Linked DNA regions of Homo sapiens: region 1 is linked to region 2. Evidence: fine-mapped QTL for protein levels in blood plasma. A gene starts in region 2. The other region holds a variant in brackets. All regions are shown on one strand. Distances are from middle to middle. Region 1 overlaps OSMR (oncostatin M receptor). Region 2 holds the start of OSMR (oncostatin M receptor).

What was found. A credible set is the group of variants that fine-mapping cannot tell apart. PIP is the posterior inclusion probability: the model's chance that the variant is causal. Sun 2018 read protein levels with aptamers (SomaScan).
Region 1: its variant is the best candidate, but not a certain one, in a credible set for the plasma level of the OSMR protein (Sun 2018, PIP 0.53).

The regions. Positions count from the first base shown.
Region 1 is chr5:38,904,133-38,912,132 of GRCh38, reverse strand. OSMR (oncostatin M receptor) reads right to left here. Exons shown (of 18, transcript NM_003999.3): 9 at 7,630-7,780. Among named protein-coding and RNA genes, the nearest start is that of OSMR, 62 kb to the right of the region's middle. RefSeq lists enhancers at 3,500-4,000, 4,001-4,501. The variant G/A (reference allele first, on the strand shown) is at 4,813.
Region 2 is chr5:38,837,940-38,854,019 of GRCh38, reverse strand. It overlaps OSMR (oncostatin M receptor), which reads right to left and starts at 8,008. Exons shown (of 18, transcript NM_003999.3): 1 at 7,633-8,008. It overlaps OSMR-DT (OSMR divergent transcript), which reads left to right and starts at 8,191. Exons shown (of 4, transcript NR_109951.1): 1 at 8,191-8,352.

The sequences.
Region 1 (8,000 bases), 62 kb before region 2:
ATAGTTTGACTTCTGACTTCCTCTTTTTCTATTTGGATGCTTTTTTTTTTCTTTCTCTTGTCTGATTGCTCTGGCTAGGACTTCCAATATTATATTGAATAGGAGTGGTGAGAGTGGACATCCTTGTCTTATTCCAGTTCTCAAGTGGAATGCTTCCAGCTTCTGCCCATTTAGTATGATGTTGGCTGTGGATTTGTCATAGATCTAGGCTCTTATTTTGAGGTATGCTCCTTCAACATGTAGTTTGTTGAGAGTTTTTAACATGAATGGATATTGAATTTCATCAAAAGCTTTTTCTGCATATATTGAGATGATTGTGTGGTTTTTGTTTTTAGTTCGGTTTATGTGATGAATCACATTTAGTGATTTGCGTAGGCTGACACAACCTTGCATCCCAGGGATAAAGCTTACTTGATTGTGGTGGATTAGCTTTTTAATGTGCTGCTGGATCTGGATTGCTAGTATTTTGTTGAGGATTTTTGCATCTATGTTCATCAAGGATATTGACCTGAAGTTTTCTCTTTTTGTTGTGTCTCTGACAGGTTTTAGTGTCAGAATGATGCTGGCCTCACAGAATGAGTTAGGGAGGAGTCCCCCAACTCAGTTTTTTTGGAATAGTTTCCGTAGGAATGGTACCAGCTCTTTATAACTCTGACAGAATTTGGCTGTGAATGCATCTGGTCCTGGGCTTTCTCTGGTTCCTAGGCTTTTTGTTACTGATTCAGTTTCAGATCCCACTATTGGTCTGTCCAGGGATTCAATTTCTTCCTGGTTCAATCTTGAGAGGCTGTATGTTTCCAGGCTGTATGTTTTCTAGTTTGTGTCCAAAAAGGTGCTCACAGTAATCTCTGAGAGTTTTTGTGTTTCTATGGGGTCAAGTGGTAATGTCCTCTAACATTTCTGATTGTGTTTATTTGGATCTTCTTTTATTCTTTATTAGTCTAGGTCGTGATCTATGAAACTTATTCTTCTTAATAACTCCTGGATTCGTTGATCTTTTGTATAGTTTTTTGCATCTCAATTTCCTTCAGTTCAGTTCTAATTTTGGTTATTTCTTGTCTTCTGACAGCTTTGGTGTTGGTTTGTTCTTGTTTCTCTACTTCTTTGAGGTGTGATGTTGGGTTGTTAATTTGAGATCTTTGTCACCCAGGCTGGAGTGTAGTGATGCAATCTCAGCTCACCGCAACCTCCACCTCCCAGGTTCCAGCAATTCTCCTGCCTCAGCCTCCCGACTGGCTGGGACTACAGGCACGTGCCACCACGCCTGGCTAATTTTTGTATTTTTTAGTAGAGATGGGGTTTCACCATATTGGCCAAGCTGGTCTCAAACTCCTGACCTCGTGATCTGCCCACGTTGGCCTCCCAAAGTGCTGGGATTACAGGTGTGAGCTACCGCACCCAGCCAAAACTTTACTCTTAACATGGCTTTGCTGTGTCTCAGAGATCCTGGTATATTGTTATCTTTCTTCTCATTAATTTCAAATAATTTCTTAATTTCTGCCTTAATTTCATTGTTTACCCAAAAGTCTTTCAGGAGCAGGTTAATTTCCATGTAATCGGGTGGTTTTGAGTAATTTTCTTCGTACTCATTTCTATTTTTATTGTGCTGTTGCCTGAGAGTGTGTTTGGTATTATTTCGGGTTTTCTTTTAATTTGCTGAGGATTGTTTTATGTCTAATTGTGAAGTCAGTTTTAGAGTATATGCCATGTGCAGATGAGAATAATGTATATTTGTTTTGGGGTGGAGAGTTCTGTAAGCCCATTTTGTCAAGTGTCAAGTTGAGGTCCTTACTATCTTTGTTAGTTTTCTGCCCTGATAATTCATGTAATACTGTCAGCAAAATGTTGAAGTCTCCTACTATTATTATGTGGCTATCTAAGTCTCTTTGTAAGTCTCTAAGAACTTACTTTATGAATCTGTGCGCTCTTGTGTTAGGTGCATATATATTTAGGATAGTTAAGTCTTCTTGTTGAATTGAACTCTTTACCATTATGTAATGCCCTTCTTTGTCTTTTCTGATCATTATTGGTTTAAAATAAATTTTGACAGAAATTGGAATACCAATCCCTGCTTTTTTCTGTTTTGTTTGGTTGGTAGATTTTTCTGCATCCCTTTACTTTGAGCCTGTGGGTGTCACTGCGTGTGATATAGGTCTCCTGTAGACAGCATACAGTTGGATCTTGCTTCTTTCTCCAACTTGCCACTCTGTGCCTTTTAATTGGGGCATGTAACCTGTGCGCATTCAAGTTTAATACTGGTATGTGTGGATTTGATCCTGTCATTGTCTTGTTAGCTGGTTATTATGCAGATTTGATTGCGTGGTTGCTTTATACTGTCAATGGTCTATTACTTAAGTCTGTTTTTGTGGTGGTTGGTAATGGACTTCCTTTTTCATATTTGGCACTTCCTTAAGGATCTCCTCTAAGGCAGGTCTAATGGTAGTGAATTCCGTTAGCATTTGCTTGTCTGAAAAGGATCTTATTTCTCATTCACTTATGAAGCTTAGTTTGGCTAGATATGAAATTCTTGGTTGGAATTTCTTTTAAGAATGTTCAGTACAGGCCCCAATCTCTTTTGGCTTGTAGCATTTCTGATGAAAAGTCCACTGTTAGCGTGATGGGGTTCCCTTTGTAGGTGACCCGCCCTGTCTCCCTAGCTGCCTTTAACATTTTTTCTTTCATTTCAACCTTGAAGAATCTGATGACTATGTCTTGGAGACATGGTGTCTTTGGGATGGTCATCTTGTATAGTACCTCACAGGAGTTCTCTGCATTTCCTGAATTTGAATGTTGTCCTCTCCAGTGAGGCTGGGGAAATTTTTGTGAATAATATCCTCAAATATGTTTTCCAAGTTGCTTGCCTTCTCTGCCTCTCTTTCAAGAACACCAATGAGTGGCTGAGTTGTTCTCTTTACATAATAATTTTTATTTTTTTCTTTATTTTTGTCTGACTGAGTTATATTGAAGAACTGGTCTTTGAGCTGAGACTCTTTCCTCAGCTTGCATTTGTATTATGAAATTCTTGAAATGAATTATTCAGCTCTATCAGATCAGTTTGATCCTTTCTTTAAATGGACATTTTGTCTTTTATCTCCTGTGTCATTTTGTTGTATTCCTTAGATTCCTCGGATTGGGTTTTCACTTTCTCTTGGATGTTGATGATCTTTGTTTCTATCCATATTCTGAATTCTAATTCTGTCATTTTGAACAGGTTAAGAACCATTGCTAGGATGCTAGTGTGGTCTTTGGAGGTAAGAAGATACTCTGGCTTTTTGAGTTGCCACTGAGTTCTTGCATTCTTTCCTTCTCATCTGTGTGGGCTGATGTTCCTTTAGTCTTTGAAGTTGCTGTCCTTTGGATGGGTTTTTGTTTTGTTTTATGTTTTATGTTATTTGATGTCCTTGGGGGACATCTGATTTTGATATAAGATGGGTTCAGTTGACTGGGTTCCCATCTGGAAGATTTTAAGGGGCCAAAGCTCAGCTTAGCACTCCTGGTCTGCATGCTCTAACTCTGCAGGACTGGTATCAGGCCCCCACCTTTGTTCTCTGGCCCCTCAAGGCTAGGAACCTGCTGTGTTGGAGAGGCCGAACTGATCTCAGTCTGCTGGCCACAAAACTCCAATGAGTGGTGCAGGCCAAAGCACTTCATCAGGGTAGTGGCAGCAGGGTCCATGCTCACTCACATGTGCCAGCAGCTAGGGCAGTGCAGTGGTTTGTATGTGCATCAGCTGGGGTGGGGTACCTCTGAGAGTAGGGCTGCAGGGTTCCTGCATGCAGTTGCCCTGGTGGGGGGATGCAGGCAGAGGCAGAAGTGCCAGTGACAGTGCTGGCACTGGTACTGGCAGTGGTGGAGGCAGGAGGCTACCAGTCTTTGTGCATGAGTTTGCACAGGCAGCAGTGGCAGTGCAGGGGTGGGTAGAGTTGCCAGCATCCATGCATGCATTCACATTGGCAGTTGTGGTGGCACTGGGAAGGCAGGGCCGTGGTTGTCTGTGTGCTGGTTTGCAGCAGCCACAGTGGCAGCACAGGGGTAGGGGCAGAGTTGCTGGTGTCTGTGCATGCATTTGTGCCAGTGATGGTGTTGGGGGGGTTGTGGGGCCATGCACACATTCACGCTGGTGGCAGTGTCAGCAGGAGTGGGGGTGGGGCTGCTGGTGTCCATGCACTCTTTCACACCAGAAATGGAAGCACCAGGGGAGGCAGGGCCACACGTTGTGCTTATGCCAACAGCAGCAGTGGGATATGTGCACACATAAGCCATTGGAGGAGAAGAGGCAAGGTCCACCCACACGTGTGCACTGGCAAAGTGGTGGTGGGGTGACCATGGACAAGTGCATACTGGCAAGGTGGCATTGGGTAGGCTGTGGTTGGGGGAGGCTGCAGGTGGGCTGATGCATGTCAGTAGGGACTGTTCTGCTGGAAATCTCCAATGGTCAGGTGCCATCTGCCAGCAAAGCAGCTATGATATGGTCCCCTAGGAAGCACCATAGTTGGGCATCTGAGGCTGCAACTCCAGCTAGTGTGGCAAGGCTGGAGCCTCAGGAGTGGCCAGCAGACAGGGGATCACTCAGATTGGACTGGCCCCATCTCATGGGTAAGACCATTCTCCTCTGTCTAGGTCTCATGGTCACCCTTTGGCCAAAGTCTCCTAGAGGAGCAAGGCAAGGCTTGGGGGATTTGTGTCCCTGGCCATGCTCCACTGCAGATGTTTCTGCACCAAACCCTCTGGGCCCTGCCCAGGATGGAGCTCTATTCCTACTACCTCTCTAAGAAGCTCTTCCTGCCAGTCCAATTGTCCATGAGGGTTGTG[G/A]GGTTTCCTGCTGCCTGGATTCCAAAGGTCCACGGCAGGGGCAGGCCGCCTGTTCAACCCCTTCCCCAGGAGTTGCTGGGGGCCAAGAACGAGTGTGGGTGCTTCATAGCCCTGTGCAGGGTATGCAGCTTCCTGACCCTTCAGCCCAGCTTCTGCATTCTCCCTGTGTCCACTCTTAATGTAGGGTTTTCTAGGTATAGAATCATATCATCAGCAAAGAGAGTTTGACTTCTTTTCCTTTTGGGATGTGTTTCTCTTGCCTGATTCCTCTGGCTAGGACCTCCAACTTCTATTTTTTAAATATGATTTCTGCATACTAAAATGGTTTAAAAAAATTTTGGCTGCTAAGTGTGAAAGTGTTAAATAGCAACTGTCACGAAATTAACAAAATTTAACAAAATTAAGGTGTTTCAAATATTAAAAAATAACTTTCCTATTTTTTTTAGTTTTTGGTTTGTGAGAGGACAAGTAATTTTTGATCTGATTCAGAACATTTCTTTGAAAGAAGAACTGTTTTGGAACATAACATTAAAATGTATCTCTCTATCTTATAAAAATATAATCTTTTTTGCCTAATAATTGACATTTAAGTTTTTTATTTTAGTTGCTGACTCAACACTTTATACTTTAAGTTAAAGGTGGCCATATATTTTTAAATCTATTAAAGCAGATTTCAATTTGCTAAATAAGTCATTGGAGAAGCCAATATTAAATTTAAAACTTTATTGAAATACTCAGGGACAATATCTAAGCTCAATGCAAAATCTTCAGCTGGCTTGTAAATTACTATTTATAACAAAAAAGTGCTACAATACAGTTGATAGCACTATATTTTATAAACAACATCATTTATACCATCAATTCATTTAACTCAATGTCTGCTCACTATAATTATACTTAAGCATGGTTATAATACACATAAAGATTTGAGTTTTCCAGCATTAAGCAAAGCGTGATCAGAAGTAATAAAAAATTCCTATAGGTTCACCTTCAGTAGATTCATCTCATTTTCTTGTCATCATCAAAAGCAAAGTTAAGCGTTTTCAAGATGTTAGATTATTACTATAATCTAAAAGAAACTCTATTCTTTTGCCATCTTCCCTTTTTACATAATTTTAGTTATGTTGGAATAAATTTTCAAAAAAAAAACAGAAAACGTAAAGCAAAATAATAAAAATTCTTTTCTAAAACACACTGAGGAAAATGCAACATTCCTCTCAGGAACAGGGCCTTCCAGAACAAAGATTATTGAGGAACCCGTACACCTAGGAAAAATTACTGGAGTCTCAATGGGCTTGAGGATAGGCAGACACCACCAGGGAAGCGGGGAGGCCTGCAGAACTTGACTAATGACCATCCTCATGTGTGGATTCTGATTAGCGGTGCCCACTACCCCCAAATTAGAGTCACTGCTTTAAAATGGTCCTCCCAGAATCAGACAGAAAGAGTTCTGCCAGCTGCCATACACAAATAAGAAGAATAATAAAATACATATGTATAATCCTTCCTTTGGCACTAAAATAGCCAGGACTTGAATCAACAAGATCTAGAGGTTGTAATAACACCAAGAGAGAGAACACACAGAATTGAGCTCTGATTAAGGGTGGAGCTCTGGTGTCAGGCTGCCTGGACGTGAGTCGCAGCTCAGTCAGTGCCTGGCTGAACCAGTTAAATTACTTAATCTTTCTGTGCCCTGATATCCTCTGGCATAAAATGAGGATCATAAGAGCACCTACTGCGTGTTGTCAGGATGAAAAGAGAGGAGCACAGAGGGCCCTTCGAGCTATGTATGGCTCACAGTAAATGTTGACTCCTATGATTTTTTTTTTTTTTGAGATGGAGTCTCACTCTGTTGCCCAGGCTGGAGTGCAGTGGCACGATCTCAGCTCACTGCAACCTCCACCTCCCAGGTTCAAGCGGTCTCCTGCCTCAGCCTCCCGAGTAGCTGGGATTACAGGCGTGTGCCACCACGCCTGGCTAATTTTTATATTTTTAGTAGAGATGGGGTTTCACCATGTTGGTCAGGCTGGTCTCGAACTCCTGACCACGTGATCCACCTTCCTCGGCCTCCCAAAGTGCTAGGATTACAGGTGTGAGCCACTGCACTCCTAAGATTATTACGATGTCTGTACCATTCAGTAACTGCAATCAGGGCAAATCTCTTCAGTTATGGGTGCAAGTTGCCTCATCTGTAAAATGGGCAACAGTTATCCTTTATGACATTGAGTTGGAGGGAGATGGAAGCAGGATTGGGCCATCAAATCTCCTGAGGCCCATTTGAGTTCTCAGACATAGTTATTTAGCAGGAAAAGTTTGCAGTCAATACTGAGGAAACCCTGCCACAGAGCATGCTGGAGAGGGCACACAGTGTGGCATCACCGGAACAAATGACTCACAAATAACCATTAAGGTTCCAAATGTCATTACATTTCCAAACATGGCCTCAAGTTGTTTAGGATGAGACCAATGCTTTCCTTGTCATTAACACTTCCACTGTCCTGAATTAAAGGTGTATACTAATTTATATAGCTCCAGATCTACTGTGAATCCAGCAAAGTGATGGCTTGAAACCATTTTGGGAAAATGAAAGGTAAGAGAGAAGATAGGCAGTATAAATAAAATACTACTGTCAACTGTCTGAGGTGGATGGTTTCCCATTCACTTCTCATGAGGCACCTAATCTAATTTTTTAAATGCTACCCCGCCTCTGTTTAAATATTTTTCTCTTAGTTTTTGGTACAACCAAAATCTCTTAAGGAAACCAGTCTAACTCCTAAGACCTACTTCTTTGGGTTAAATGCCAGGGGCTGAACATACCAGCTTCAAGTGTGGTGAAGTTCTGACCACTCCATTCACTCCATTTCCAGAAGTGGCTGGCATCAGCACACCGTACTCGCGCCATGTACTCTGTGGCAGGTTCCAGTTCACTTAAGAAGTACTCACCGTTCACCTTGATGGAAACATTGTACTGCTTGATCAAAAAAGAGAAGAAAAGAAAAAAGAGAAAAGAACAAGACAGAAACATTGGTGAGTGCATCCCATTACAAAGGCAAACCAGAGCACAGCAAATCCTGACCTGGAGTAAGATCAGTTCTTCTTTGGGGGGAAAAAAATCTTCAAGGCCCATTTCCTAACCATAAAAGTGTATGATTAATTTCATGGACCTTTTAAAACAGATGACCCACACC
Region 2 (16,080 bases):
TGAGAGCCCCTTTGAAGAGGCCTCTGCCTTACAGCATAGGGTTGATTACTTACAAGTGTTCACTCCAATTCCCTTCCTCCTCAAGGCTCCACAGTCAGAAGCTACAGCCATGGGAAGCTTTGAGTATTTCTCCTTTCATGTCCGTCCCCCACACCCCACCTCTTGAACCTGTCCACTGGATAATGGTTAAGTGTTTCCACCAGTGTTATAAGGTAAATCCTGATTTATAAAATTGAATTAGCTGATGAATAACTGATTTTTTAAAAACGCAACATTCAGTTCAAGATTTCTGCAATTTGTGACATCAGCTAGGATTAAAGCTGAGTCTCTAAAAGGTAAATGAAGCCAAATAAAAAAATGAAAAACTGGAATCCAAGGGTATTCTGAATCCAAAAAATATGTACATATGCTAAAGGTGATATTTTAAATCACTTTTGAGATCACAGAAATCATTCCCCAAAATGGTACTGGAACAATAGCACGCAGACTTGTGGGAAAAGGAAGCTGTAATATTAATAATTAAGTACCATGGACTCTGACATAAAATGCTTAGGGTCAAATTCCTACTTTGGTACTTAAAAACCATATGGCCAATGACAAGTGATTTAACCCCTCTAGGTTTCAATGTCCTTTTCTGTAGAAGGAGAAGAATAAAATAACCTACCTTATAGCATTGGCATGAGGATTAAATGGGCTTATGAGAACCTACATACAGCAAACCCAGTTAATGTTAATTTTATCATTAAGTCTATTGCCTCATTTCCTTCAGCAAAATAAATTCCAGATGAACAAAGATATCAATGCAAGGAATAAAACCATTAAAAGTACTAGATTAAATCATAGGTAAATAGTTTTATAATCTGTTAGGCATGATATAAAACTCATAAGCAAAAAAGATAAGGATGTAGGGGGAGGGTGAAGAATGATAAAGATAGCTATACTGATTAACAAACATTGAAACATTTTAGTGCTTTAAATGAAAACAATAGGGCCGGGCGCGGTGGCTCACGCCTGTAATCCCAGCACTTTGGGAGGCCGAGGCGGGCGGATCACGAGGTCAGGAGATCGAGACCATCCTGGCTAACACGGTGAAACCCCGTCTCTACTAAAAAATACAAAAAATTAGCCGGGCGTGGTGGTGGGCGCCTGTAATCCCAGCTACTCGGGAGGCTGAGGCAGGAGAATGGCATGAACCCAAGAGGCGGAGCTTGCAGTGAGCCAGGATAGCGCCACTGCAGTCCAGCTTGGGCGAAAGAGTGAGACTCCGTCTCAAAAAAAAAAAAAAAAAAAAAAAAAAAAAATGAAAACAATAGTTTCAATATGTATCACAAAGAGCTATCCCTCATATACAAAGAGTTCTTAGAAATAAGTAAAAACAGGCATACAACTCTGTAGAAAAACATGAATACATAATTCATGAAAAGAGGGAAATACAAATATCACCCTTCCCTACAAAAAACTTGGCAAGATCACTAAGAATTAAAGACAATTGTGTGTGTGTGTATGTCTGTGTATGTCTATGTAGTATCCAATTGGTAACGTTTAAAAAGGTCTTAATACCTCACATTGGTAAGAGTTTACAGAAATAAGCATTGTGACTCACTAATGATCAAAGCATACAACCTTACAGAGGTCCATTTGACCACATCTACTAAAATTCTATGTGTATTTCTCTTGATCCAGAAATCATTCTGTAATTCTATTGCTGAAATTTTGCCCTACAGATGATAGACAGAGTATTGCACATGTTGTACGCAAATGTGTTTAAAGACTGTTATAGCACTGTGTACATGAGGGAAAAAATAAAAATCCAAGAGCCTTTCAAAAAGAACAGAAAAATAATTATGGTGCATTTCTACAAAGGAACAACATGCAACTGTTAAAAAGAATGAACTAGATCCATGCACTGACATGGAAAAATATTCTAAAATATTGAGTGAATGTATTAGTTTGTTTTCACACTGCTGATAAAGACATACCAGAGACTGGGTGATTTACAAAAGAAAGAGGTTTAATGGACTCACAGTTCCACGTGGTTGGGGAGGCCTCACAGTCATGGTGGAAGGAGAAAGGCACATTTCACATGGTGGCAGACAAGAGAAGAATGAGAGCCAAGTGAAAGTGGTTTCCCCTTATAAAACCATCAGATCTCGTGAGACTTATTCTCTACCACGAGAACAGTATGGGGGAAACTGCCCCCATGATTCCGTTATCTCGTACTGGGTTCCTCCCACAACATGAGGGAATTATGGGAGCTACAGTTCAAGATGAGATTTGGGTGGGGACACAGCCAAACCACATCAGTGAATAAGTCAGTTTCAAAACAGTATATACCTAAGAACATCTCTGAAAGAGAACTGTGGCAGTGTGCAGCTGTGCCCCTCAGTGCTCCCTTCAAGAGAGCGTAGATGACTGACAGCCTTCAGACACTGCCCCTTCAGATCTGTGGAAGATTCACACACCCCAGGCTGCTCCCACCCAATGGCTGCAGCTGGAAGCAACTCCTTCCCACCTTCCTTCCTCCCCATCTCCTTCCACAGGCATCACACCTGCACTGGGTCTGAAGGCTCTGTGCCTACAGTTACTCCCTTTCCCCTTACAAGTCCTTCCCCCAGTAAATCTCTTGCACATGTGTTTCTGGCTTGCTCTCTTCTACTTGAGGGATCCAAACCAGCCCCAAAGACACACCCACTTACTAAGTTATAAATTTAGAGCTGAGATGGAGGGAGGGAGGTGGGCAGAATAAGAGAAATTATAGATAACTCACTTTAAGTTATACAGTTCTGCAACATAAAGCATTCCTTAAAACGTGTGTGTGTGCATGTTTTAAACATATTAAGCTCAGTCTTGTGCAAGTGGCAATTTCCTTATTTCCACACTTGAAACCATATATCCCAACATGATTAAACTAGTTGACAGTGTTTGTGTTTCCAGTCCAACCCATGGTATTGAACAGACTTGAAAAAGGTTGGCAGTTTTTACCTACTGGATCAGCCTGGGAGGATGCCGTGTTTTTCTGTACAGAAAATGTAACCTCTTAGGTTCTGAGAGAGTGTAGATACTTTAATGATCTATTTCCAAATGCAAAAAGTAACCAGTGTCCTGAGTAGAAAAATCATACTACCATCCCCGGCTGACAGACAGACACACTGAAGTATATATATGAAGTAAATTTGCTCAAAATCCCCCATTAGGGAGATTGAAAGTAGAAAGAGGTGACCAAGAAATACCACGGTGTATGAAAAATTTACTCACAAGAAAGCGTAACTTCTGTTGATGCACATCTTCTCAAAAGCTGGCATTACACATGAACAATGAAACCTCAATCACTCTTTTCTGAGAATTATTTTGTCTTACATTTTTCCAAGTGTTCTTTATGTCTTACATTTTTCTATTTGCAGAAGCCACTTACAATTGTGCTTTTCTTTAGTTGACATTAAATGTCATATTCAGGCTGCATATATTTTATATGACTGTCTTCATCTTAAGTCAACAGTTTAAAATAATCCAGATAGTTAATTGCCTCAATGACTCTAGATCTAAGAACAGAGCTAGGTATTCTATTTAGCGATCTCACCAACCCTCTTTCTTTTAACAAAAATAAAGGAAGAGAGGGAGAGAAGAAGGAAGAAAGGAAAACAACTATAATTTAGTTCTTTAGCATGTAATTTTAAAAGAAATCAATTTAAAAATGCTTTCAATCATATTCATTACAAATAGGAAGTACTATCACTAGCAGCATAAATTTAAATAGTTGTACAAGACTGTACACCCAAATGTGGACAAAGGACCAGCAGTATTGACATCACCTGGTAGCTTGTCAGAAATGCAAAATCTCAGGCCAGACCTTAGACCTCTTGAATCTGCATTTAAATAATATCCTCAGGTGATTCATATGCACATTCAAGTTTGAGAAACACTACTATATTTAAAATATATGATATATTTTTGTCTCTTAGGATACTACCAATAAATAAAGGAAATATTTACTGGTTCCTATTACCAATAGGGCACTCTGCAAAACCATGAGTAGGATATAAATATGAAAAAGATCCCAGCTAGCATGTATAAGATACTAACTCTCTACAAGGTGCTTTGCTAAGTGACGTACATGCATTTATTAATTGAATCCTCACAACAGCGCTAAGAAAAGGATTATATTATTATTCCCATTCACAGAGGAGGAAATTAAGGATAAGAAAGTTGACAAGTAATTTATCCAAACTGACCCAGTTAATCTGATGTGTAGCCAATATTTGAAATCAGATAAGTCATTAACCAAAGTTCACATGACACAGTTTCCTTAAAGCTTGGAGCTCATACCAAAGTGGACATTAAAGCATTAAAAATTGCTAACAATTATAAACTCAATAAAATCTTAATTAAAAATAGGATTTTATTAAACTTGACAGGCTATTTGTAAAGAGAAAATGTATGTGATTTATAAAAAAAGTTGTTTTAAAAAGCACAAATATATACCACAAGATTTTCAAAAACACTATAAAGCTACAGTAGTTAACTCAGAGTAATATTGGTTTAGGGAAAAACAAACAAAAAAAAAGATCAATGAAACAGAATAGAATCCTGACACAGACCCTTTTACAAACAGGAATTTATTTAATGATAAAAACAGAATTTCAAATGAGTTGGAAAAAAGATGAATTATTAAATAAATGCTATTGGATCAGCTGTCTAAAACTTTACAAAAATATTAAGTTACATCGTTACCTTCCACTTCGTATCTATCAAGTGGAAAAAGGGGCAAACCCTTTGACACAGGAATACCTCTCCTCAGATTCTCTTCCACAGAAATACTCACACTTGAGCAGGAAGATGAATGTGTGATCTGCTCTGAAGCAACGTTGCTAATGCTGAATGTCCATCAATATAGGAAAGGATGGATAAATTACATTCTATTTCTACTTTAGGATAACATGTAGCTGGCCGGGCGCAGTGGCTCACGCCTGTAATCCTAGCACTGTGGGAGGCCAAGGCAGGTGGACTGCTTGAACCCAGGAGTTCAAGACCAGTCTGGGCATCATGGAGAGACCCAATCTTTACAAAAAATACAAAAAAAAAAAAGTCAGGTGTGGTGTCATGTGCCTGTAGTTCCAGCTTCTCAGGAGGCTGAGGTGGGAGGATCACTTGAGCCCAGAAGGTCGAGGCTGCAGTGAGCCATGATCATGACACTGCACTTCTGCCTGTGTGACAGAGTGAGACCATCTCACACACACACAAAAAGAATAACACGTAGCCATTAACAAAAGAGGTATCTAGAGACAATGGAAAGATCTCTAAGACTTGGAAAGTGAAAAAGCAAGCTGTACAATAAGTATAGTAAGATAATTTGCATATTTAAAACATATGTATATGTATGTATTATGTAAAACTATAGAAAAGAAAAACAAGCCTTAGAATGGTATTATCAAACTTAACCTTCCCTCTTCTGAGTGGGAGGAGGGAGGATGGTGATGGCACGTCTACATTTCACTTCACTTCTATATTGAGTGAGAATGAGTTGTTATTATTTGTATTATTTTTAAAACACAAAAATAGAATACAACGTGGAGTGCACAAATGCAGAGCGACCAGTACAACTAAAATGAGGAGGGAAGGAAGGCTATGAAGCCACCAACACAGCTGTTGGAAAAGAAATTCTCTCTTCATGTAGCTACAAAGAAGCCTGCTTGGAGGAGGGGATTTCTCCAGCAAGGCCATGATATTCTATTTGTTTTGGTTTGGGTTTTTTTCCCCCCATTTTACACATTTTTTAAGCAATCAAGAAGGATTTTCTCCCCCAGCGAAAGGAGGGCCAAGGCTCACAGTTCCTGTAAGTGAGCAAGACCACACTCACTAAGATTCTCTTCTACTGCAGCCAATGAATGCCCCAGTCCTTTCCCACAAGGAAAATACACACCTTCTTCTTGTTAAATACAGTACCACTGATTCCCCTTTGAAAACCGTAACAGTTCTCCTGATTCGGTTTTGTCCTCAGGACAAAAGGGTTACAAAAACATGAGAGATCCAGGAACACCTCTGCATGTGTTCCTGGTCTGTTCAGGTTAAAGAAAAGGGTAGAGGGGGAAAGAACCAGTGTTTATGTGTTCTCCCCAATGCGGCTCGGGTCCCTGCGGAAGAAACACCCAAGACCAGCCTTTTTCTCTCAAAGCCACCTTTGATACAAAAGGCTTAGCCACACCTGCTGGGACAAACGGGAACTGGGACCAAGATGTAAGTCACAAGGAGGCAATTTACAGCAGAGAACTAGCTCTTCCTACAATAAAATGTGAGGTGGTGAGCTTCCTGCCACTGGAGGCACTGAACAAATGCTACGGGGAAAACAAACTGAGTATTTCCTGAAGATTCTGAATAGAAGGCTGTGTTTGGAGTTTGATGCTTTGAAAGCTCAAGAAATGATTCTCAGACACAGCGGAGTTTGGGGACATCAAGGGCTCTGAGTGCATTTTAAAGCAGCCCAGGAGAGAGACAAAGCAAGACCATAATGAAACACCCCACCCAGTCTTAGAGTTTGAGCTACAGCACGGTGATCATGAGCAGACTCCAAACCCAAATCCTGATACTGTCACCTGCTAGCTGTGTAACCCTAGAAAAGTTACAAAACCTCTTTGGGCCTCAGTTTCCTCAATAAAATATAATAAAAAACTAGTACCCGCCTCACCCGTGAAGCTTAAATGAGCTAGCATATGTCAAGTGCTTAGAATAGGGGCTGGTTCACAGTAAGTATGAACCATTATTATTTGCAGACAAGGAAACTAAGAGGTGATAAGTAGTTTGACCCATGTTCCAAAGTCAGTTTTAATCTTGGGAATAAAACCTAAAAATTTCTTTCTCCTCCATCAGAATTCCTTCTAGCTCAAACTAAGTATCCTACATTCAATTCTATCTTCTCTGCCTTCATAGACCCTTCCATTTACTTCTCTTGAATATCTTGTTCCCAAAGTGTTTTCAAGGCAGGTCTGTTACCAAGCCACTCCATCAGCAGCACCTAGCACTGTGCCTCCCGCAGCAAGGCAGGCAGGATGGATGGACGGATGCAGGCATGCATGGGTAGGTGGATGAAGGGCAGATGAAGAACTATCGAGAAAGGAATCGCGGTGTCAGGGGTAAAGCCCTGGCCTGCGAGAGCCGGGCTCGGATTTCAGTGCCCTCACAGCTAGCCATATGGCCTTGGACAAGTTACTGAACCCCTCCGTGCCTAGGTTTCCAGAATGTAGAGGGCCACTTCCACTCAAGTGGCTGGAGAAGAAGGTAAGCGCCCCGGACGGACGCTATTGCAGAGTCGCCCGGGGATTCCTCTCTCCACCTGTGCTTGAGCTCCTCCCGCTTCTACGCTAGGGACCAGGTGGGAGAGATACACGGATTCCCAGAAAAATGGCTCTCTCAGGTGGGAGTCAAGGGTTACGAGAGGAGAGGTAGGGGAAGCAATGAACTCCTCCACACGATGTGTTGGGAGAGAGGAAAGAGGGATTCAAGTGGGAATTTTCCACTCAACAAACATTCCACCATCATTTGAGAAAAAGGCGCTGGGATGGTGAATTTCAAACAGTCTGAGAAATGGGCGACTCGGCACTGTGCGGCCTGTAAGGAATGAATCATTTAGTTTTCACCCACCAGGTAGGCAGGCCGGGGGCGAGGACCCTCCGAGCGCCGTCCGAGCGCAGGTGGTAGCCCAGCCAAGCAAACGCTGGGCAGAGGCGGCACCGAGGAGGGGAACGGGCTGCTGCACTCCCGGTCGCGTCCAGCCGGGATGGGCTGCGAAGTTGTCGGATTCTTTCCCGCACAGCACGGGGCTCGCCCGTCGGAAAAGCCACCGAGGGCGGCGCAGCGGCAGGGCGCGAGCAGAGCGGGGACGGGCGGGTCGGGGGTACTCACGCCGCGGGCGAAGGGCTCCACGAGCCGGGCCGAGTCCTCGGCGGCGCGTGGGGCGCGGGTGCGGGCTCCGGGGCGGACGTGCAGAGGCGGCCCGGGCCGGGGCTATGAATCAGCTGCGGGGCAAGCGCGGAGGGGCGGGAGTTACTGGAAAACCGCGGGGGAGGGCAGAGGGGTGAGGTCTTTTGCAATTTCCCGTCTTGCTGCGCACTCTTGGCACTCCTGGGACCCACAGGAATTCCCTCCCTTCAGTCCCGGGGGGAGGCGGCCGCGATCCTGGGGGAGGCGCAGCCTCACAACCCGGACTTTGCGGGCGGGCGGGCACTGGTGAGAAGAGGAAGTGGGAGAGGCCTGGGAAGGAAACTTGGAAACCGAAAACTCGGCGGCCGAGGCTCCGTGCCCCGCGCGCAGCGCTGCTCCTGCCCCGGCCAAGGACGCACGGGCCAGCCGGCGGAACCAGAGGTAAGCCGAGTGACCGATGAGGCCTGGGGCTGTGTATCCCACAGGGGCACTTGTCATCCCAACCCAGAGGCCAAACCCGTGAGATCCCCGTCCGAAAATCTTCAGGCAAGAGAAGTCCTTTAACTAAATTTTGGCCGTGTTTCCATTTGGCGTCCAGAGCAACGAAAACGTGTTTGAACCGAATCAAACGGTCCCCATTTTTCCCCTACTCGCGTTCTATCCAGAAACGCCCTGTCCGACAAAGTTTCTTCGGCTACAACAGTCCCGAAACCTTTATTTCCCAATGCTACGACATGCTACACATGGTTTACTTTTCCCCTTAAAAATGCCATCCAATCTTCAACCTTTTTTTTTTTTTTTTTTTGAGACGGCATCTCACTGTGTCACCCAGGCTGGAGTGCAGTGGCGCGATCTCGGCTCACTGTAAGCTCCGCCTCCCGGGTTCACACCATTCTCCTGCCTCAGCCTCCCTAGTAGCTGGGACTACAGACGACCGCCACCACGCCTGGCTAATTTTTCTATGTTTAGTAGAGACGGGGTTTCACCGTGTTAGCCAGGATGGTCTCGATCTCCTGACCTCGTGATCCGCCCGCCTCAGCCTCCCAAAGTGCTGGGATTACAGGCGTCAGCCACTGCGCCCGGCCAAAAATGCCATCCAATCTTTACCGTGTCTGGGCCTTTGAAAGGTGCATTTCACCTCTCTTAGAGGATAACAGGAGCCTTCCGAGGCAGCCTCGGACCGGGAGCTCCCATAGCCTCGCCTGTCTGGATGCCTGACAAATCAGCAGGCAAGGGGCCTTGCTCCAGATCAGCTGAGCCTAGTTTGGTTTGAGTTTGGGGACCCTGGAAAGTATCACAAAAGCAAGGTTGTAGGAGGGGGGTGGGGGAGGGAACCAAGAGTGATCAACAAGTATCGACCATAAACATATCTTAGAATCCTATATTGAATTGACTGGATGACTCAAAATAATGTCAGAATTATTTTAAAATGTTACTTTTGTGTTTGTTCACATATCTGGCTCCTCCCCAATGTCATCCCAAGGAAAGCTGAGAGTCCTTTTGTTTTTTTATTTTTCCTAAAACAAAGGCCTAAAGGCCCTAATACACTTAATACCTAATGGGGCCACAAAGACCATGATGCATAGTAAATATTTGATGATAATAAAATGTATTTTTGTCTCAATAAATGTATGGTCCTTTGCCACACCTCTCATTACTTGAAGAGTTTTAAAGAGTCCATTAGTTTAGCCATCTGCATGGTTATGGAAACTGCCAAGCCCAAGAGTTGGAAAGTCTTTATGATTTTATATTTTACTGAGAAAAAAAATTATTCTTTATAGAAACAGTTAAAAGGGATCTCTCTTCTAGCAAATGAGATGTCAAATAAAAATATTCAGCCCAGTATGAATTTCTAAAAAGTGAGGCTTATTTTGGGCTCCTATTGCAATTGAAGGAGACTGAAGTGTAAAAATTTGGTGCCCACATATAATTTATCTGTTTTTGCACCATTCTAATTTCTTAAATTTATACGTTATTCTAGAATCTAGATGCAGTAGCACCATATAAATTCGCGATTATACCCTTAACAGTGGGTGCACTGGGTCCATAAAGTCAGATCCACCCAAAACCTCCAAATATCAGTTTATTTGGAAATAATGTTTTTGCAGCTTTAATCAAGTTAACCTGAGGTCATATAAGATTAATCCAGTGTCTGCTGTACTTCTGAAAAGGGGGGAATTTGGACACAGACACCCAGAAAGAACACTGTGTGACCACTGAGACAGATCCTGCTTATGCTGACTCAAGCCAAGGAATGGCAAGGTTGCTGACCACCACCAGAAGCTAGGAGAGAGGAACGGAACAGGCTCCCTTTGAACCCCTAAGAAGAAGCTAGCCCTGCCAACATCTTCATTTCAGACTTCTGGCCTCCAGATTGAGAATACATTTCTGTTGTTTTAAGCCACCAAGTTTGTGGTAATGTGTTATGGCAGCCTTAGGAAACTGATACATAGGTTATGTTCCATAAGTTAGTTTTAAACAATTATCCTGAAAATAACTAATAGGAAAAAGATGAAAAATACCAATGGCTTATTAAGCTAAGAGCTAAAATATCCATCCTTGCTTAGTTTTGATAAGATTGTGTGGCCAAGGCACATATTATTCTGCTTCGTTAAACACTCTTTTTATTTTTTTATTTGTGTGTGTGTTTTTATTTTTAATTTATTTATTTATTTATTTATTTAGAGACGGAGTCTTGCTCTGTCACACAGGCTGGAGTGCAGTGGCACGATCTCAGCTCACTGCATGCTCCGCCTCCTGGGTTCACACCATTCTGCCTCAGCCTCCCGAGGAGCTGGAACTACAGGCGCCGGCTACCACGCCCAGCTAATTTTTTTGTATTTTTAGTAGAGACTGGGTTTCACCGTGTTAGCCAGGGTGGCCTCAATCTCCTGACCTCGTGATCCTCCTGCCTTGGCCTCCCAAAGTGCTGGGATTACAGGCGTGAGCCACCGCGCCCGGCCCATTAAACACTCTTTCTTGACGTTCTCTCTTCCTTTTGATTTCAGTAGCAATACTCTCTCCATTCTTCTTTCATTTCCCTGACTTCCTCCTCCCTCATATTTTTGGACTTCTTGTTCTCCACTTGCCCCCTACATGTTGGTGTTTCCCAGGGCCCCAGGGCCCCCTGAATAATCATATTCACATCCAGGATTTCAATGATCACTTGTGCCTTGATGGCTCTCAGCTCTTCCTTTCCATTGCAATGATTTCATCTGCACTCCAGACAGTACTTTGAAATTAGTATGCCCGAATTCAAACTTCAGTTATGCTCACTTGATTTTATTATACTAAGTGAATGGTCCAGCCTTTAACCTTTACTAAGTTAATGGGCCAGCCTTCATTTAGTGTCCTCTGGACACTGAAGTTAAAACCCTGGGAATGATTCTCGATCCATCCTCTTTCATCTTCCATCTTCCATCAGAAAGTCTCATATGTATAACTATTATGGAGGAGGGATTAGTGGAATGTATTGCCAACCTATCTAACTTCTCAGAGGAAAAATAGTTCTATAACTGTCAGGAACATTATATTTGTCTATATCTCTATATCTATGTTTACATACATCTATGAAATCAGCTATGTAAATTGTGAAATATAATTATGATTCTATTTATTCCACTACTGTAAATAGCTATAATTACAAGATGGCAGCATTTTGTTACCAACTGATGGAATTTGAAGGTATCGGGGATTTTGTGAAGAAAGTGACTTCATCACCTAAGCAGTGGATAATGGTTTACAATTACCCTCATCGACAAGTTCTGTAGAATTCTGTTTTGTTGGCATATTATCACATTTGACTCTTTTTAAATGAGACAGGGTCTGTGTCACCCAGGCTGGAATGCAGTGGTGCAGTCTCGGCTCGCTGCAACCTCCGCCTCCTGGGCTCAAGCAATCCTCCCACCTCAGTCCTCCAAGCAGCTGGGACTACAGGCACGCGCCACCATGCTTGGCTAATTTTTGTATGTTTTATAGAGACAGGGTTTTGCCATGTTCTCCAGGCTGGTCTCGAACTCCTAGGCTCAAGTGATTTACCCACCTCAGACTCCCAGATTTCTGGGATTATAGATGTGAGCCACAGTGCCCAGCTGACATTGACATCTTAAAGATTCACTTTTAGGCCTTAACGCGTGCCTCTGTGATTATTATTGGTGGTGATATTGGCCTTATTTCTAAAAAAAAGTTATTGGAAATTAAAATTATTTTGTGGAAATAATTATTTTGTGGAAAGCTAAACAGGTCTTCCAAAAAAAAATTTAATCTGAAATTTATCATAAAGCTTGATTAATTAAAGGACATCTGTTACTGAACTGAACTGGGTCCATTTGCCCACTGTGCAATGGAAAGCCAAACACCAAAACACTCGGTTTTCATAGCATGAAAAATTTATTGCAAGGCTACCAAGCAAGGACACGGGTCTGGCTCAAATCTGTGTCCCCACCTGGCACTTGGGTCAGGTTTTATAGCCAGAGGGTAACAAGGCATGACCTGATTGCATCTTGCAATAAGGTGAGGCTGGGAGGCACCATCTGACTAGATCCTGCCATGAGGTGACACCAGGGCGCAATCTCATTGGATCCTGGATCCTGCCATGTGGTGTCCACTTCTTAATTTAGTGATCCAAGCATTTAGGTTCTGCCCATGGTTGCATTCTTAGTTCATCTGAGCCTCCTCAAGTTACATGACCTTCAACCTGGGGGTCCATGGCAACTAAAAAACAACTCACAGCTTCGCTATATAAATGGTGAACCATAAAGTTGAACCAGCTAATTAACACAGGAACAGAAAACCAAACACTGCATATTCTTATTAGTGGGAGCTAAACATTGAATACACATGGACACAAAGATGGAACAATAGACACCAAAGCCTACTGGAGGGAGGAGGGTGAGGATTGAAAAACTACCTATCAGGTGCTATGCTTATTACCTAGGTAATGAAATAATCTGTACACCAATCCCCTCCTTGACACACAACTTACCCACATAACAAACCTGCACATCTACCCCCTGAACCTAAAATAAAAATTGGAAGAAAAAAAAAAAGTTGAACCAGACTGGTCTGGTGCAGTTACACATCTAACACTTCTAAATATCCAAAAAAGTGGCACTGCAATGACAAAGCAAGATGTTGAGCGTAAGAAGACTATGTGGGACTTTCTCATTTTATCATTTTAGGAATTCCCTATAATTACTTAATGATGAATTGCTTTTCTTTCAAAATCTCTTAAGTGATGAATAATATTATCCACAATAATTCTACAGGAATTCCTTGATTAAACTAGATATTATCTGAAAATTGATTGATTGATTGATGGATGGATTTTGCACATTCCACCCTCTTCCAGATGTTGTAATTGTGCTCACACCTTCTTCCAGAAGTCATCAGAAACCAGACAATGAGGAGAACCTCCCTGGATCTTTTACTTTTTTTCCCTCAGGGACTTTAGGGAAAATATTGAATATTGATAGCTGCTTTTATTCTCTTGGCCTGTGGTTATGGCACTTACTAAATTTGAGTGCAGTTGTTAATGCTAAAGTTTAGAACATTAATACAGTGAGAGAGAAATACTTTGGAGAGAATTAGATGGGAACTTTCTGGATATTTGAAAACTATTGGCTTAAGGTTGATCCGAAATAAGTCTATAGTTGTGTTTATATTTAAACTGAATCTCTTACAGAAAACATATAGTTGAGACTTTTTTTTAGAAGTTGACTGACAATCTCTGCATTTTAATTTGATAGAGAGTGTTTAGTAGACTTATATTTAAGGCAGTTATTGATATGCTTGTGTTTAGCCTACCATTTTACTATAGGTTTTGTGTTTTGTTCTCTCTGGTTTTGTTTTTTTATTCTTCTTTTTCTTCTTTTTTTTCTGGACTATATAAATACTTTTTATCTTTTTATATTTCCATTTTAATTTTTTTAGAGTTGGGGTCTCACTCCATTGCCCAGGCTGGTCTCAAACTCCTGACCTTAAGCGATCCTTCCGCCTCAGCCTCCCAAGTAGCTGATATTACAAGCATGAGCCACCATATCTGCCTTTGAACGCTTTTTAAATTTCATTTTTATTTGCCTTTGTCTTTTTCTTATTTCTCTTTGCATGATGTCTTAATGTTTTCTCTATGGATTACAGTGTACATTCTTAAATTTCACTGTGTACTTGAAATAGTATTGTACCTTTTCACTTAATAGGTCCATTTAACCACACACCCCATCCTTTACACTATAGTTGTAAAGTGTATTACATCTACAGACAAGATAAAACCCACAATATAGTATGTATTTTAAAGAAATTAAGAGGAAAACTACTCTTTTATATTTATACACATATTTACCTTTAATGTTCTTAAATCCTTCCCAAAGATCTAAGCTTCTCTCTGGTAGCATTTCTGTAAGCCTAACAAACTTACTTTAGTATATTTTTTATTGGAAGTCTATTGGAGATACATAGTATTAGTCTTATTTTATTTGAAAATATCTTTATTTCACTTCGTCCTCAAGGAATATTTTTGTTGGATAGAATTCTATTTTCTTTCAACTATTTAAAGATACTGTTCTACATTTTACTGCCTTTCATTGCTTCTGATGAGAAGTCAGCCATTATTTGATTCTTCTTTCCTCTGTCAATATAATGTGTCATTTTTTCTCTGGTTTAAATATTTTCTCATTATCTTTGATTGTCAATAGTTTATCAACTATGTGCTTAGAAGTTTTAAAATTATTATTTACCCTGCCTGGCATTTGCTAAGCTTCTTGAATTTATAAATTTATGTCTTTTACCAAATTGGAGAATTTTTCAGCCTGTATATCTTTTTAGTACCTTTTCTGCACCATTATCTTTCTTATCTTTTTGAAATTCCGACTACAAGTATGTCAGACCCCTTAATATAGTCCTAAATGCCCATGAGCCTCTGTTGTTTTTCAACTTTTTTTCTGTGCTCTTCAGATTCAATAATTTCTATTGAACTATCTTTAAGCTTACAAATTCCTTTTGTGTTATATTCGTTGGGCTATTATATCCATCTAGTAAATTTTGTGTCATATATATGGTATATTTCAGTTCTAGAATTTCAATCTGTTCTTTTAAAATATATTGTCTATTTCTATACTGGTTGTCCCTATTCTTTTTATTATTATGAACATATTTTCCTTTGCTTCATTGAGCATAGTTATTATAGTTGCTGCTTTTAAAACATTGCTTCATTATTCCAATATTTACATCATCTTTTAGTCAATCTCCACTGATTTTTTTCTTTTATAAGAATGGATTACATTTTCCTGTTTTTTTTATTTACCTATTTTTGGATTGTCAAATAATTTTGGAGTGCAACCTGTGCGTTATAAATATTATGTGATGAAGATTCTGTTCTATTCCTCCAATGACACTGATTATCTTTTAAAATGGCAAGCAGTGTGGTTAAACTCAAACTGCAAACCTGATATTGCTTACAGTAAGTAGAAGCTCAAATCTGAATTCACTTTTTAATGTTGACCAGGCTGCTTTGAGTTTGCCTTGCACAAGCATGGTTCAGAGATTATCCAATAATTGGTATTTATTTTAAATACAGAATTTGGGCTTCTTCCTCTCTTGCTCCCTCCTTTATGTTTTCCCGCCTCACTTTCCAAATAATGTTGTTGCTGTGAACCCTGACCCCTGGTTCTTCAAACTAGAAATATTGCATATTTTCTAACAGAGTTTTAGCTACCTCACATTGCACAGACATGCACTAGTCTTGGGCTGAGGGTCATAAAATTTGGGAAAGTTGCTCCATGCCTTTCCTCTGCCAAGTGTTGACTTTCCTCCACAATCTGCCTGGTGTTGGTCACTCTCCACTGCCGATAATTGTTTTTAATTTTTAACAATATTTTTCTAGTGTTTTATATTGTTATATGTTGGGGAGGGGCAGTCAATTAAACAGAGCTACTCAGCAATGGCTGAAAGTAGCACTCCCTGCAATTGTAGTTATATCTGCTAAGTGGCTAGGTTATTGGGAGGAGCTAGTATGAACTGTTTCCTTTGCTAAATTAGATTTCTCTCCAGTAGAACATTCTTTTGGATGCAACCCAGTTTTTCAGAAGATTGAAATACATTTGCATAGACCTAAATCTGGAAATTGAGTAAAAACCTTCTGAAATCAGGTACGGTTAATCTATTATGGCTGAA